Regions from separate parts of the Homo sapiens genome. Here region 1 is linked to region 2. The links come from fine-mapping of genetic effects on gene expression. Tissue or cell type: blood mononuclear cells. Region 2 holds a variant in brackets; the other region holds the start of a gene. All regions are shown on one strand. Distances are between the middles of the regions.

Region 1 (7,136 bases), 34 kb after region 2:
TTCCATCTCAAATAAATAAATAAATACATAAAATTAGTTTCTTAAAAAAATCTTTTAGGAGCCATAGAGAGGGCACTACAAGGCTTTAGAAAATAGACGCAGGTTGACAGGGACAGAATCAGATGGGAGGTGCCTGCAGAATGCCTCTGAGCCACTTTTGTGGAATTCTACCCTATGTTACCAAGAGCCTGCATTTTCTGATGTGTTCTTGCCCCAACCTCCTGGCTATATTTTTGGGAAATACATAAGCACAGGGGTGGATTGGGTCTTACTGGTCTTGGCAAAGCATAATGCCAGCCCAGAGTCGGATGGGGCAGCATTTTAGGAAGGAGACCACGCCTTTGAGGTCAGCTCTATGAATACCCTTTCATCATCCATTAGAGCAGCCGGGCTTTCTAATTATGCTCCTTTTCACTGTTCTGGTATTGCTGGAGTCAGTGTTTTTAAAGTATAATACCAGGTGGAATTATGGAGAAATAATGCCCTGTAAGTAAAACAATACTTTATAGGTATTTAACCAAAGGCTGACTGTGGAATATTTCCTGGAGTTTCAATGCTGAACAGAGCAATTTCTATATATAGCGCCCCTTTAGCAGGTAGAAACATTTGCTACAGTGTCTGCAGCACAGCTGGCGCCCAGCAGTAGAACTGTCCTAATTACACTATCACTTCAGGCTAACTACGGATCACTGGAGAAGTGGATGCAGGCTTTTTCCTTGGCGTGTTATAAATATTTCATTCTCTAAATTAAGACACCAGCCCTAAATATGTTATCAAAAAATAAATTAATAGTAGTAAAGCAGGAAAAAAAATGTACCCCAATCATAGCAGAAACTAGCTGAAACCAGCCTCAGTCCACATAATGAGTTTTGGGGAGAAATAAGTGTTCTCTTTCCAGGATTTTTAATTGGAAATGTAAATAACTACACAGGGATAAGGAATGTAACGCTACTATAAGCCCCCCGGCAGGCTTAATTAGGCATGTTGCCCTTCACTGCAGAAGAAAAGTGAAAGAAATACAATTTTTAGGAAAAAAACGTTTAAAAGTAGCATGAAGAAGGCATCCATGCACAACACAGGGCGTCATGAGAAGTCTCGTCCTGAGAAGTCCCGACTAATCCAAAGCCATCCCAACTTTTTGGAGACCATTAATGAGCCCAATCTAGCAGACATCTCACTGTAGCAGTTCGGGGTCTGGCTCCCTTCTCTGGGCTTTCTTCCATGGCCACACAGTCTGCGAGACTGAGCTTGCGTTTTAAGACTGCGCTGGTTCTGGAATTACGCTCTCTTCAGATTCAAGACAGCAGAACAATAGGAGTAGCATGCTAATAAAATGCTTGACTGCGAAAGGGAACGGCACTGAAAAGAGCTGTCTCTCACGAGGTCCTGGGAGGCAGCTCTATAAACACAAACTACGCTGTGCCAAAGCTCAAGCAGCCCGAACCCAGGCTCAGGATGCTAGCGAAAAGCCTCCCAGGTAAACACAACGGGCCCACAAAGAGGAGGAGCCGCCCCCTCGGGGACACGTTTGCCATTTTACCTCTACACCTCCCCTCCCCCGAAATAAATAACACACACACACACACACACACACACACACACACACACGGAGTGACTGGTGTAGACACCCCAGGGAGGCATTCCGGAAGGTTTCTGAAGAGTGAAGTGCAACCTACCAAATTCTTTCACGGGTTTACTTTCCAACTCTGGCTTTGGCAATTTGAAAGAAAAAAAAAATCAAAGCCACAAAGAGCAAGGCTGGGCACTGCTCCGATGTTACACCTACTAAGTCTGACGTGGTAAGGAAAACAGTCCAGAAGCCCCACAGGCGGGCCGCTGCAGGGGAGAGGGGCCGCCGCGTGGAGAAGATGGGAATCCGCGGCGTCTGGCACGGGGCAGCAGCCCCGGGAAAGCCCTGAGGAGCTGCCTTCCTTTCGGGGAGCCTTCAGGGGAGCACCGCTGCCAGGCCCTCACGGGTGGGGGCGCACCCTCGCCGTCTCCTTGGGTACCCCTAAGACATGAAGCCCTATGGAGACAGGAGACGCCAGAGGGGCCCGGAGGACCCTGGTCAGAAGGAATATGGGGGCTGTCTGTGGCCCACACTGCCTTAGGAGTGTGATTTTGTTCGGAAAATTAACTCTAAGCCACCCTTTGGCTGACAGATGGAGAAACTGAGGCCCGTGAGGGTGAATTAGGGACCCACACCGACCAAATAATAAGCCAGAAGGCAGACTCCGCCTCCTGGTCCTAGGCCCTTTCCTGAATTTCCCCCCTTCAAACTCCCAGGTCCCTGACGTCCAGGCAACGCCAACCGTCCTCCCTTTCGCGCTGGGCGCAGGCCGCCCTACCTGCCGAGCCGTCGGGGCCGTCTTTGTCCGCCCGGCCAGGCTCGCCAGCGCCCTGCTGGCGGTCATTGTCGCAGCCGCCCTGGTCCAGGCGCGCCTCGGCGCTGGAGCAGCAGTAGCGCAACGCGCAGCTGCCGCAGCAGATGGTGGCGTCGCCGCCGTCGAAGCGCTCGGGACACTGGAAGCCGATGCGCCAGACGCCCTGCGCGTCCAGCCAGCCGTGGCAGTACTCGCCGCTGGCCCTCGCCCCCGCCGCCAGCAGCGCAGCCAGCAGCAGCTGCAGGAGCGAAGCGGCGTTCCAGGATGAGGAGACGGACGAGCGGCGAGCGCCCCACATGGCACCACCCTGGGCGCGGACAGCGCGTCTCCAGAGAGCGCAGGACGGTCTCCGAGAAGTCGTGGCCCCGGCGACCCCCGGGCCTCGTCACTGACTGTCCCGCGGCGCTTTCCGCGCGGGCCACTCCCCTCTGCCGCGACGCCCAGGAGGCGACGACGCCGGGCCCTAGGTCCAGGAGCTCCTAAGCCATCCCCGTCCTCAGCCGGTGGCCCGGTCCCCTTAGGGACTGCCTTATGAGTTGCACTCGCTGATGGAAATCTCGGGATGCAGTCAGAAGGCCCCCGGGGCTGTCGTCCGGAAGCCTCTGGAGGTTTCACTGGCAACCGGACCCTCCCTGAGCATCCCCGAAGGGATGCTCACTCGAGCCGAATGACCGCTGGGCGCGCCGCCGCGGACCTGGAGCCAGGGCTCTGCGCAGGGTTTAAGCCTCAGGGTCCCGCGCGCGAATCAGGGCCCGTCTCCCCTCCTTTATTCCCTCCTCGGGCGGGTAGAAGGGGCGAAGGCGGGCAGTGCACGCAAGGCTCTGGGCAGCAAGTGACGCAGCCGGCCGCGCTCAGCCTCCTCTGCCCCGAACTTGGTCCGCATGGCTCCGGCCGGGCCGCCCGGGCAGCCCACGGGGGTGCAGCCCCGACGCTCCACTCGGCGGGGCCGACGGCCAATCTTCCCAGCACGTCGCCGAGGGAGCGCTCCTGACCCCGGGAACGTCCAGGACGCAGGCGAGGGTCCTGCGCGCCCCCAGCCGCAGTCCCGGGAGCCTGCCCAGCTGGCGGCGGCCGCGGCTGCTGCTGGGCGCGGATCCAGGCGGGCGGCTCGCCCCGGTTCCCCTTCTCCGCCTCCCCGGCTGCAGCGCGGTCCCACAGGAGCCCGGCAGCCTCCGGCCGGCTCTCCCTCTCCCGGTCGCTGCCTCGCCCTCGGGAGGTGTGCGCACCGATGGAAGCCTCCCACGGAAGTTTCTTTCCTCCGGGCTACGGGAGAAGCCGAGCGCAGCAGCCGCCCACAGCCTCGCCTCGCCCCGCCCGGCGCCAGACCAGCTCCGACTCCGCTCGCTGCCGCGCTGAGCCGCGCTCTTATAGAGGCCGGCGGCTCCCCGGCGCGCATGCGCGCTGCGCGGCTCCCCCCCACCCCCGACCTCAGGGACGCCCGCGGGCGCCGGGCAGCCCCTCACTTTCCTACCCCGGGCAAGGAGAAAGGTGTGGCCAAGGGCGGGGTCTGCCTGCTGGAATAGGCGCGGGAGGAAACCCAACCTAAGCAATCCAGGCCTCGCTAACACAAATAACAATAATAACGGAAGAAACTCAACTTGCTTTGTGAAGATCTTTGGCATTCAACATTCGGTTCGATTCTGCAAACTTCTCAAGGGATTATGATTACTTTCCACTCTGCAGATCATAAAATCGCCACTCAGATGAACTCTCTCGGCTTCCAGCAGCTGATGTCCTGGCCACGGTTGGTCCCAGGCCCTGTGCAGGAAGAGCACCGATGTTTGTGGCAGGGTTCACACGCCTAGGGCTGTGTTTGGTGGACTGGAGGCCTCCACCACAAGGTGGAACGGAGAGAGTTCAGCAAAGATGTCACACATTCGGCCACGGTGTGGATGATCTGTGTCCCTTTTTCTTTCTATATTTGGGTGTGGTGATTTATCGGATTCCAGCAGGAAAGTGCCTCCGTCCAACATGTGGCCTTAGTGGTTTAGACAGCTGCAGTCAGGAAGAAAACAAGGTTCAGACAGACCAGAAATTCAGCTTTGATGAAGGAGAAATTAATAGCTTCTCTCTTGCAGAAGCTGGAACAACAGGTGCTGATGTTATTAAAGCAGCAGTGCTTATTTTTAAAGGAACGAATGCCCCTTCCCACACCGTCTGGGAGTCAGCAGACCTGAATTCTAGACCCAGCCCTACTAGCAGGGAATCACTGCGTTTTTCTGGTCTCAGTTTCTTCATCTATAAAGTGGAGCATAGGATGTGACGATCACTAAGGTCCCTTTCAAGTCCATGACTTCAGAACACAGGCAGTTTTATTCACAGCAAAGACACTCAGGTTCAAGCAGCCATTGGATGCTTGTGTATGCCTGGTTAATGTGAAGATTCAGACATTGTTGATTATTCTTCCACTTGCCCCAACAATGTCAAATCCAAGAAAAAAAACCCTACCCTATGTCCCTGCTCCCCAACACACACCTTATTCTTTTCACTAAACCTCTCTCCAAGCATTGCACTTTGTTTTCTTGCAGTTTTTTGGTTGTGTATCGTTTTAAGCTACACAAAATTATATACTTTAAATGCACTATTCACCAAATGTCTTAAGCTAGTAAGCTAAAAAAAATTTCAATGTCAAGAAATCATTCATTCAAGAAATACACGCCATGCACTTACAGTGTACTGTGCTCTGTGCTGGGTACTGGGACTCATCAAGAAGCCAGACAGCATGGCCATTTCCTTCAAATAGGGCCTAAAGTCTCCAGGGTAAAATACAGAAATCAGACAAAAAGACAAAGAACTGAATAAGCAAAGAGAATGCAAGTATGATCAAAGCTCTTACCCACAATGAGAACAGCATCAATTTAAGCACATAATCTAGGTTAGGGTGGGGAAGGAGGTCAGAAAAATCATCAAAGGAGTAACACTTAAAAAGAGACCAGAAGAAGCCAAGGGAAGATTGAGTTTTTCAGAATGAGTCATTTTCTTAGAAGACACCATTAGCCAACATTTATTGAGAGCTTACTATGGGCTAGGCACCACGCTAAGAATTTCATGTGCATGGTTTCATTTAATCCTCACATCAGCCCTATAAATAAGACAGTATTACTATCCTCATTTTACTGGTGAGGATACTTGCTCAATCCCTAAAGATAGAGAGCGTCGGTTTGCCTGGACTGCACCCAATTCTTCCTGACTCCAAACCCCACTCACCGCACTGCTGATCACCACAGCCGCCACTACAGAAAGCCCAGGATTGATTAACTGGGAGTCCTGTACAGATCATGAGATGCTCCTATGGCAGCACGAGTTGATTTGGGTAGTGTTCAGAGGGTGAATACTTTCAATTTTGCCATTTGGAAAAACAATTAATGCGAGAGAATTGTACTTATTGTTCTATTTAGAATTGTATTATTTCAGACAGTACCTATGCCTATAACCTCCTTCCAGGATCCACTTATCCTACTCACCAAAACATCCACAATTTGTCAGAGTTTATTTATGAAGAAAAAAAATTGTTTAACATTTCATATTGGAATTGATTTGGTGACTGGATAGTGCCACCTTTAAAACACAATGTTTTTGCCAAATAGTCTACAATTTAATCTATAATTGGTGAACTTAGAAGTATGGCGCTCTGAGCAAATTCGTCTTTTTTTTTTTTTTTAATTACTGTGTTTCTTTTCTTCCTTAAAAGTTAAGGAGAGGCCCTTTCATAGTTACTTTACGTAGTGGTTGACTGTCTTCAATGCTGAAAGGTCCTTTATGTCACTTTGTCTCTCTTGTATTATCGTTTCTTTGTGTATCTGGAATGTTGAACTGAAATTTTATAAAATAACTTGCCAAGTATTTAGTGAGGTTCTGCATGGGAGGTGCCACTGGGAGATATTAAAATAGGCTTGTTCCTTCCATAGGAAATAAAAAGAAATTCCCTCATTGGTCTTAACAGACAACCAAAACTATTTCACTCGTTTCTTCTGAGAAGCTATAACTAGTAATTACAACATATAGGTAGTAGTAATCATAATTTATGATAATCAAAATGAAATGTTAGGCAGTCTGCCAAAATATATTGAAAAACATATGAAAGAGTGCAGCCCTCTTTTTAAAAAAGTTGAATTCTATAGTCACTAACTGAAAAAGTATATTTTCAAGTTATTTTGCCTTTCAGTATGTGCCTGTGCATATATATATAAATATATATATGAATAAAATCCAATTGATTTAAAAGCAAACTTCTGACATATCTTCACTAGTACAAATAGCAAGTCATATAACTAAAGAAATGATTACTTACAACTTTACTAACTGGAGTTGATACAAATCAGATGGAGGTAATAATATTTCATTTGGCTGGCAGTTCTAAAAGCTGCAAGATCTACAGTGTTTTTCTGCAAGTTTCAGCAAGAGCAGAAGGTTCTTACCATCTGCACATCCATCAGCAGTCTGTTTAGGGAGAATGGCTTTCACTGGGTTCATTCATTTTTTTTTCTCCTCTTCTCTCATAAATAGAAATAGTACTGAAAATTGGCATTTGGTTTACCAAAAGTTCTTTTAAGTTAGAGTGTTTTTGTGAAAACCCAAACAAATATATTAATTTACATTTATTTTAATTTTGTCTTCTGTTTACCTAAACTTATGTTCAAAAATGTTCATAAATTTATGAAAAAAAATTGTTCTTGCTTTAAAAGTTTTAATTTTTCACCCTCCTTATTTTTATTGTAATTGACATACTGACTTCCAGAAAAGTAATTTCCA
Region 2 (8,097 bases):
AGAGCGAAACTTGGTCTCAAAAAAAAAAAAAAAGAAAGAAAGAAAGAGACAGATTTATGAACGTGAAGAATCATTGTTCACACAGTACAGGCAGTGAAGGATCTGTGTTCTGTTGAGCTCTGCCTGTCAACAGGTATTTGCAGACTTTCTCAATGGAGAGAGAAGGAGGGAGACAGAGTATCATTGCTTTTCAGTAATCTACCCCCTGTCCTCACTTTCCCATGTGGAATATCGTATGGGAAGAAGGGGACTGACATGCTTCTGTCCTTTAATGCTCCACTGCCCTGGGAGGTGGGTAATGCCACCCCAAGGACACAAAGCAGAGGCTCAGGTCAGAAAGTGGGTGGCCCAGCATTGCTCAGTGGCATGCCATGAGGTCTGGATTGCAGCCTCAGACTCTGGCCCAAAAGAGAGGTAAGTCAAGAAGTTTGATGGGACAGGAGTGCTAACTGTAGGGCAGCCCTCTGGAGATGGGCTGCCTGGGTTCCTGTCCCTGCTCCCCTGCTTTTTCGTGACCTTGGGCATGTTACTTAATGTCTGCTTCTGCATCTGTAAAGTTGGGTAATATGAGAACTTACTGGATGCCAGAGGTTCAGTGTAGGTCCTGCCACCCACAGCTGCACAGAAAGCCAATCACTGAAACAACAATTATAGCCAAGGAAGAAGGCTTTATCTGGTGCTATAGCCAAGGAGGTGGCAGATTAGTCTTAAATCCATATCCTTGACTGACTAAAATTAGGGGTTTATATAGCAGGGAAGAAATGTTAACAATGTGTAAGAAAACAGGAATCAGTAGGGGTAAGGAAGCAATCAAGATGAATGAGGGGCTTAGCATCTCGTTGTCTGGATGAGATCATTGGGTGAGTTTCAGATCTTTGCTACTTTTCGAGAGGCCTGTGGGTCCCTACCTAAGGAAGGAACTCAGATAAAACAAATACAAATGTCAAGCTTTAAGACCAGAAGGGTCATTTCTATGTTAAAAAAACAAAAAAACAAAAACAAAACTGTCTATGGGACTATTGGGTTGGTTTCAATTAGGAGGATTAAATGAGATCATAAAGATAAAGTGTCTATATAGGCAATATAGGGTCCAATAAATGTTGGGTATTATTATTCTGCCATTAGCTGAATAATTTTGGGAAACTTAATTTCTCTAAATTTTTATTTTCTCCTGTGGAGAAAAAAGAATTTTAATGATATACATCTTACACAGTCCTGTGAGTCTTCATGACAGCATGTGTAAAGCACCTTCTGTATGCCAGACACAGAGAAAACACATACAGGTTCCCAGAACTCTACAGGGTCTGTTCTGTTGAGCCGTGTTGCCTCTCTGATGAATGTTTCAAAATAACCATAGACAGAATATACACGATATATATGTTGTGATCAAAGACCGAATGAGAATTTTTATGGGAGAGTCATAAATGTCTTAAAGACAACTACTAAATGCTTTTCTTAAGTCAATATTTTGAAGGCCAAAAAAAAATCTACTGAATAAATATAAGAAATAAGAAGGCTTCTGAAATCACACCACATTTTTTAAACATTCAGTGACTAGTACCAGAACCTGATGGATAACTTAGGACGTTTCTGTCACTAACAGCCAGAGAAGATCGTCGGGTGGTCAGAGCTGGTCCTGGGGTGCAGGATGGGCATATAGCAGGTCTCAGCCTTTGATGTTCCGCCTGGGTCTGTCCAGGAAACTAGCAGGAAAAACTCTAATCTTGGTAGTATTTTAGTTCCTGTGAGCCACCAACATACAATATTTGTAATCAGCATTTCCTACACAGTCTGATTTCCTCTTTGTCCCCATGGTCTTCTCATTTCTATGGCTATTAGGAATCTTTCCAGACAGGAAACTGCTATTTTCATTAAGATGCTATCAGAGCACAGATTCAAAGGAATGCTACTTAAGGGGAGTTTTATTCCAAAATAATGAAAAAAAAAGACATAATTTTATGGATTTCACCAAATGTTCTACCCGGAGAAGACAAAACAACTAAGAAATCCGTCTTTCCTCCCACCTCCTTTCACCTACACGATTCTGTTCTCCATTCTGGCTGTGGCTGTTTAAGAAAGCAGATGCTTTAGGAAGCCAGCCAGGGAAAGTTCAGTTAGTTGGGTCCATGAGAGCTCCCTCCAGGCCCCCATCAGGACTTTTCTGGCTGTTAGGACTTCCTGAAACATGAGTGAAAGTAGGGAGTGCAAAGAGCTGGAGGCTTCCTCCGAGCTCCCCGTTTGGATGCAAATGACAGTTAAAGGTTCATTAGGCAGAGCTGGGGAGCAGGTCTGTATCTTCATCCGGTGGGACAGAGGCTGGGCAGGCAGGACTGGTTGAGGGGTGATGGTGTCTGGTTTTCCAGTAAAACTCCTCCCATGACAGCTCTAACTCCCGCCAGGCCTGGTTTCTAAGAGGAAAATGTTTAATCTGAAATTTTATCTGAACATGGGAGGACTCCCTCTCCCAAGATAAACCTATCAGGCCATTCTCCTTTCACTCTTGAATTGTAGAGTCCACTTTCATTCTCGGTTAAGGTTAAGAAAGTCTTAGCGTACAACACGCTGGAAATGTGGTGGTAGGTGCAGCCAATGGGAACTAGGGAGGATGGTGGGAGACATTTAGCACAGACCTCACGTTGCTCTACTTACCCTGGGAGGTTTACAACAGGAGGGGCAACTCTTCTCTGCCTGTCTCTTCAAAGGGAAACCTCGAAACCCTTCCCATCCCAGAGGGGCCAAATCATCCCGCTGCAATCCCATGGGAGGCCCTTGTGGCCATGGCACTAATGCACACAGAAGAAGTGACAGAGTTATGAGCTGAAGAAACCCCCGGAGTTGGGTTTCCAGTAGACACAGGCATGTTATGGAAAACAAGATAAATAAAAGAAAAGGCTTTTGCACCTTCCATTTGAACAGGGAGTAGACTATTCCAAAGGCTAAGATACCTTTCCCGAAAGGACACTCCCTAATTTATTTTTATGTCTCCATGAGTTCCCCCCAACCAGGAGAAAAAAGCAGGCCAAAAGAGGTATAATAGGTAGTTAATTATTCTTTTTGGATGGACTGTTGACACCGACCCTTTCTTTTCTGACGTGGATGCAGAGGCCTCCGTGTTGGTGCAGTGTGAACTAGCACTGACAGAGGGAGAGAATCCTGCAGCCTGGGTGTGACGGGCCATGAACATGTCCTGGAGCCCATAGAGAGGACTGGAGGTTGAGAGAACTTGGGCCTTGCCTGGTCCAGGCCATTTAATTTACAGAAAAGTACATCAAGACCCAGGGAGCTTAAAGATCCCAAAGTCACATGGACAAGTAGCAGCAAGCAAGGACTAGAACCACCCTTTGTTTCCTGGCCACCACCCTGACCCCATGCTGCAGCCACTTGGGGCCACCAGAATCTAAGATGAAAACAAGCGAGTGGAGAAAGACATCTTCAGGGTGGAGAGCTCAGTAGTCCTCAGCTTCCCACCGGAAGAGTTTATAAAAGAGTATGTCCCATTCTTTGGGGTGACTGTTCTTTACTCAGAACCACTTCTGTAGGACTGAGGAGCAGCCCCGGGAGTGGTGCAGCAGCTGTGGAGCCAGTGACGACCCTGCCATTGCAGCTGCTGTTCTGCCAGGCCCCCTCAGGATGACTTCAGATGTGGACTAGAAACGTTCCTTGTTAAAGAACTGGAGAATGGAAATTGTCCAAGTTGACCACAGTACATAGCCTTGTTACTGGAGCAGACGAAGCAGTGTTATTTGCTAGATTTTGCTTTGAAACATCCCAAGGAAAGACGTCTCCTCTTGGACTGCAGTAAAAATGCTTCATAAAGGGCAGCTTGTACAGGATTGGGGATGAGAGTGTGTGTGCCACACGGTGCCAGAGGGAGGCAGGAGGCTGGGGCAGCTCCTCCAAAGCTGGGCAACGGAGGTTTCCTTGTCCCTGCTGCTAATCTCTGATTAAGCAACTTGGTGAAAATCCAAAAGCTCTTAGGAGAACAGGAGTGGTGGCATTTGCTCTTCGGTGCTTGAAAGCAGATCATGTGAAAACTCTAAAGCCCTGAGAATCAAAGCACAGCCACCTACCT[G/A]GTCAGGAAGTTCAAGTGCACTAGGTGTGGGCCCAAGGCTGGCACAAGCATATCCGCCCCCAAGGGAGCTCCCCTCCAGGCTGATGCTGCCTTCAGGCTCAGACACCCACCTGCTCCTGTACCCAGCTGTCTGAGGGCTCACAATGGTCTGGGAGCTGCTTCACTGTGGCTACCATGTGGTGGGAATTTTTGGTTTGTAGGTTTTGTTTTGCTAGAAATGGAGGTGAGCAAGTAGACAAAAGCCCCCTGTGGAAGATTCCTCTCTGTTCTGTTCTCTTCTGTTCTGTTCACCCTGGCTCAGCTTGTATCACCTTCTCTCCCGCCCACTGTCTCTTCCTCCTGTGGCCTCACTGGTCTGGGCCCTCCTCCCTGCTGCTCAGCCCATGTCCTCAGTCAACTCTCAGGCCACCTCTGCAGACAAGCCCTTGCCTCCCCCGATAACCCCCCTGAGCCTTTGGGATTCTCAGGCAGTGGCCAGAAGGCATGCTCTCTGGAAGAGCCAGGAAGCCAGCCCAGGACCGGGACTCTCAGTTATGGGAACACACAGAGTAAGAAAACAGCCTGAGTGTCTTCTTTTAAAGTCTCCTCCTCTTCTCCATCCCACGAGGACTCTTCTGTCTTGTTACTGTATGTCTTGATACTCTAGAAATTTCCTTTTTAAGCCAGATGCCTCAGGAAATTAACAGGCAGTCCAGGAACTGATTCATGGGCACCCTTTTCGACTTCTTTTCTCCTTTTAAAGAGTATGACAGTGAACTCACAGCTCCCCTGATAAGTTGTACGCATGCATGGATGGAATTCAAGATTGTCAGGTTTTTTTATTGTGTTGTCTTTTGGCCAGAATGTCTAATTGAGCTGTGGGACTTTTCCAGACCCCTGACACAGAAGGGTTAGCCAATGGAGAGCAGGCCTTATAAATGTCTTTCTGTGGGAAGGGCCAGTTGGAAGAAAAGCCCCACTCTGGGCTTGTGAACACTAAAGCTGGTTCTCAGCTCTAGAGTGTGGACCCTGGGTTTGCTTCCCAGCTCTGCCACTCACGAGGTCTGTGACCTTGGGCAGGTCACAAAAATCTCTGTGCCTCAGTTTTCTCATCTGTGAAGTGGGAGGAGTATAATCCCCTATCTCATAGGGTTTCTGGGAGGATTAAATGAGCTTTATTTTATAGCACAGTGTCTTAGACACATGGCATTTAATGAGTCTTGGCTATTATTTATTTTATTAATAGTATATGAACTGATTGTGTAAGAATAGTCTTTGTATGGCCACAGGTCCAATCAATCACTAAATTCCTTTTGAGTTTATTGTGTAACCTTTTTCTTTACATGGAAACAACCCTACTTTGATTACTTATTACCAGTCCAGATCAGTCTGATTTAAAAACAGGGCTGGGTGTGGTGGCTCAGGCCTGTAATCCCAGCACTTTGGGAGGCCAAGGTGGACAGATTGCTTGAGGTCAGGAGTTTGAGACCAGCCTGGCCAACATGGTGAAACCCCGTCTCTACTAAAAATACAAAAAAAAATAGCTGGGCGTGGTGGTGCATGCCTGTAGCCCTAGCTACTCAAGAGGCTGAAGCAGGAGAATTGCTTGAACCCTGGAGGCAGAAGTTGCAGTGAGCTGGGATCGCGCCACTGCACTCCAGCCTAGGCGGCAGAGCAAGACTCTGTCTCAAATAAATAAACAGGAAGGCTCCAGGTATCACGTGCATTTTGCCAGCTTGCACTATTAGTGTTGTGTGTGTGTTTCCCTGGCATGTTTACAGCTTCATAAATTAGCTGGCTGCCCTACAGCATCAGGCAGACAGGAGTGTTTTTTCTTAATTGGCAGTGGGAAAGTGGAGTCGGGGACCAGTGACCCACTGTGTGTGATTCCCACACTGAGCTCAGCCGCAGCCCCCTAGAAATAGGAAACCTACCCTCAGAGGCTTTCCCTTCCCAGCATCAGCAGCTAGAACCATGGGACCCCAGTTAGCCTGCACACGGCCGCCACGGCCCCTCTATGGCCACAGGTTTCTTCATCTCAAGCCTCCACCTATCCAAGGCTAAGGAGGCCAGATGTCGCACTCACCCGCACGCTGCCAAAAAAAAGCAGCTTATTTTAAACCTAGTGTGCTCCCCCAATTCTCCTGTTAACCAGTTTCTCCTGTGTGCTTCACTTTCAGATGGGTATGCTTTTTCTCAAGAAGAACACGGAGCTGTTAGTCAGGAAGAAGTCATCCGTGCTTATGACACCACCAAAAAGAAATCCAGGAAGAAATAAGACATGAATTTTCCTGACTGATCTTAGGAAAGAGATTCAGTTTGTTGCACCCAGTGTTAACACATCTTTGTCAGAGAAGACTGGCGTCAGCAGCCAAAACACCAGGAAACACATTTCTGTGGCCTTAGCCAAGCAGTTTGTTAGTTACATATTCCCTCGCAAACCTGGAGTGCAGACCACAGGGGAAGCTATCTTTGCCCTCCCAACTCGTCTGCAGTGCTTAGCCTAACTTTTGTTTATGTCGTTATGAAGCATTCAACTGTGCTCTGTGAGGTGTGAAATTAAAAACATTATGTTTCACCAATATTTAAACATCAGTACTAGTTGTCCTGGGAGAAAGGGAAAGGAGTTTTATGTTGCGTGAGAGGCCCATCCTGTGTAATTGGAGCAGGGCACACTTGCTTCCTGTTGAGTTAACTCAGAGGTTAAGTCCAACGGGCCACATGCAGACTTCACTGTAGGCAGGTTGCTCTCCTGCTTTGATTCCTGTTTTGTGTGTAAAATTGGCATAAACTTCTTGATTGCAGTGAAATCACAAAATTCTCTATCGGGGTGGTCAACCTGAGAACATTTATTTGAACCTCTTAGCCACATTTCCAGCAGGGCAAACCAACTGATGCCCTGGAAGAGTCTTCCGCACCCTCTCCAGGTGCACTCGGCCCAGTCCTGCCGCCGTGTCCAGGCGCCCCTCACCCCCACACCTGCTGCATGGCTGGCCACACCACTCAGTGCATGGCGGCCGATGGGCAGCCAACCCAAACCCGCGCCTTTCCTTGTTCCACTGCAGACTCAGATACAGATGCGAAAAATTCCTTCTTCCACCGCCCTTCTCGTTCTGTAAAGAAAGAAAAGAAACATAGCCTTTCTGCATATATTCTAAACGTCTCTCTGCCTCTGTCTGACATGGGGCCACCCCACAGGTCAGAGTGGTGGTAGAACCCCTTCAGGACTCCCAGCCGTGGTCAGGCTCTGAATACTCCCTTCCCAACATCCAGACTGCTGGGCCTTTGGCATCCACTTACATTAGAACCCACGTTTGTTTCAGAGCACATTTTGGACTTTCACTGTTGGGAAATGAATGAATTTATAACATGCCTGCACAGCGAAGGAACACACCTGTCGCTCTTAGCTCTAGAGTCAGAGGATGAGTAAACCCAGATGCAAGAGTATAGGACATTGAGTGGGGAGAACAAGACGACCACAGAAGTCCTCAGAAGGAGAAGGAAGGACACGGAGACACTGAGAGGAGGACACAGAGGAATCGCCACCAGATCTTTGCAGTAGAAACTCTGAAATAGGCCTTGAGACCCAGACAATTGTCATGATCAGCCCAGTGTGTATGAGAGCTTAAACAAGACCTTCACACACAGTTCTAATTGAAAAGAATTCCAAACATTTCAGGGAAACACCTTTTTAAAAAATATACTGACATGGTTTCCTTTCTGTATCCCATCAGTGTTAGACACAGGTACCTATCAGAATACGGCATATCCTGAATTATCTAAGACAAGGAAGTGAAGAGCGGAATCACTGACTTTCCCAACTGCAGAGTCCCACACTTAAATCTCAACAGAACCTAGATGTCTTCAGGCATGAATGTGAGCACCTGGAGCCCTTACTAAACAACCTGCCTGGAGCCCTGTTCTCTGCTCTGGTTGCCAAACCAGATTTTTGGATGGCCTAAATACTTGTGGGCAACTGTTACTGGTGAAAAATGGGAGTGGAGAGCATGTTTTGGATTTTCACTGTGGGGAAATGAATGAATTTA

What was found. PIP is the estimated chance that this variant, and not a neighbour inherited with it, causes the effect.
Region 1: it holds the start of SHISA2, and the variant in region 2 is fine-mapped to the expression of SHISA2 in blood mononuclear cells (TOPMed, PIP above 0.99). The same link has a PIP of 0.9 or more in T cells and whole blood.

The regions. Positions count from the first base shown.
Region 1 is chr13:26,048,294-26,055,429 of GRCh38, forward strand. It overlaps SHISA2 (shisa family member 2), which reads right to left and starts at 3,723. Exons shown (of 2, transcript NM_001007538.2): 1 at 2,349-3,723. The coding sequence starts at 2,682. LINC00415 (long intergenic non-protein coding RNA 415) reads right to left here. Exons shown (of 2, transcript NR_146971.1): 2 at 3,983-4,379.
Region 2 is chr13:26,013,657-26,021,753 of GRCh38, forward strand. It overlaps ATP8A2 (ATPase phospholipid transporting 8A2), which reads left to right. Exons shown (of 37, transcript NM_016529.6): 37 at 6,232-8,097. The coding sequence ends at 6,329. Among named protein-coding and RNA genes, the nearest start is that of SHISA2, 34 kb to the right of the region's middle. The variant G/A (reference allele first, on the strand shown) is at 4,073.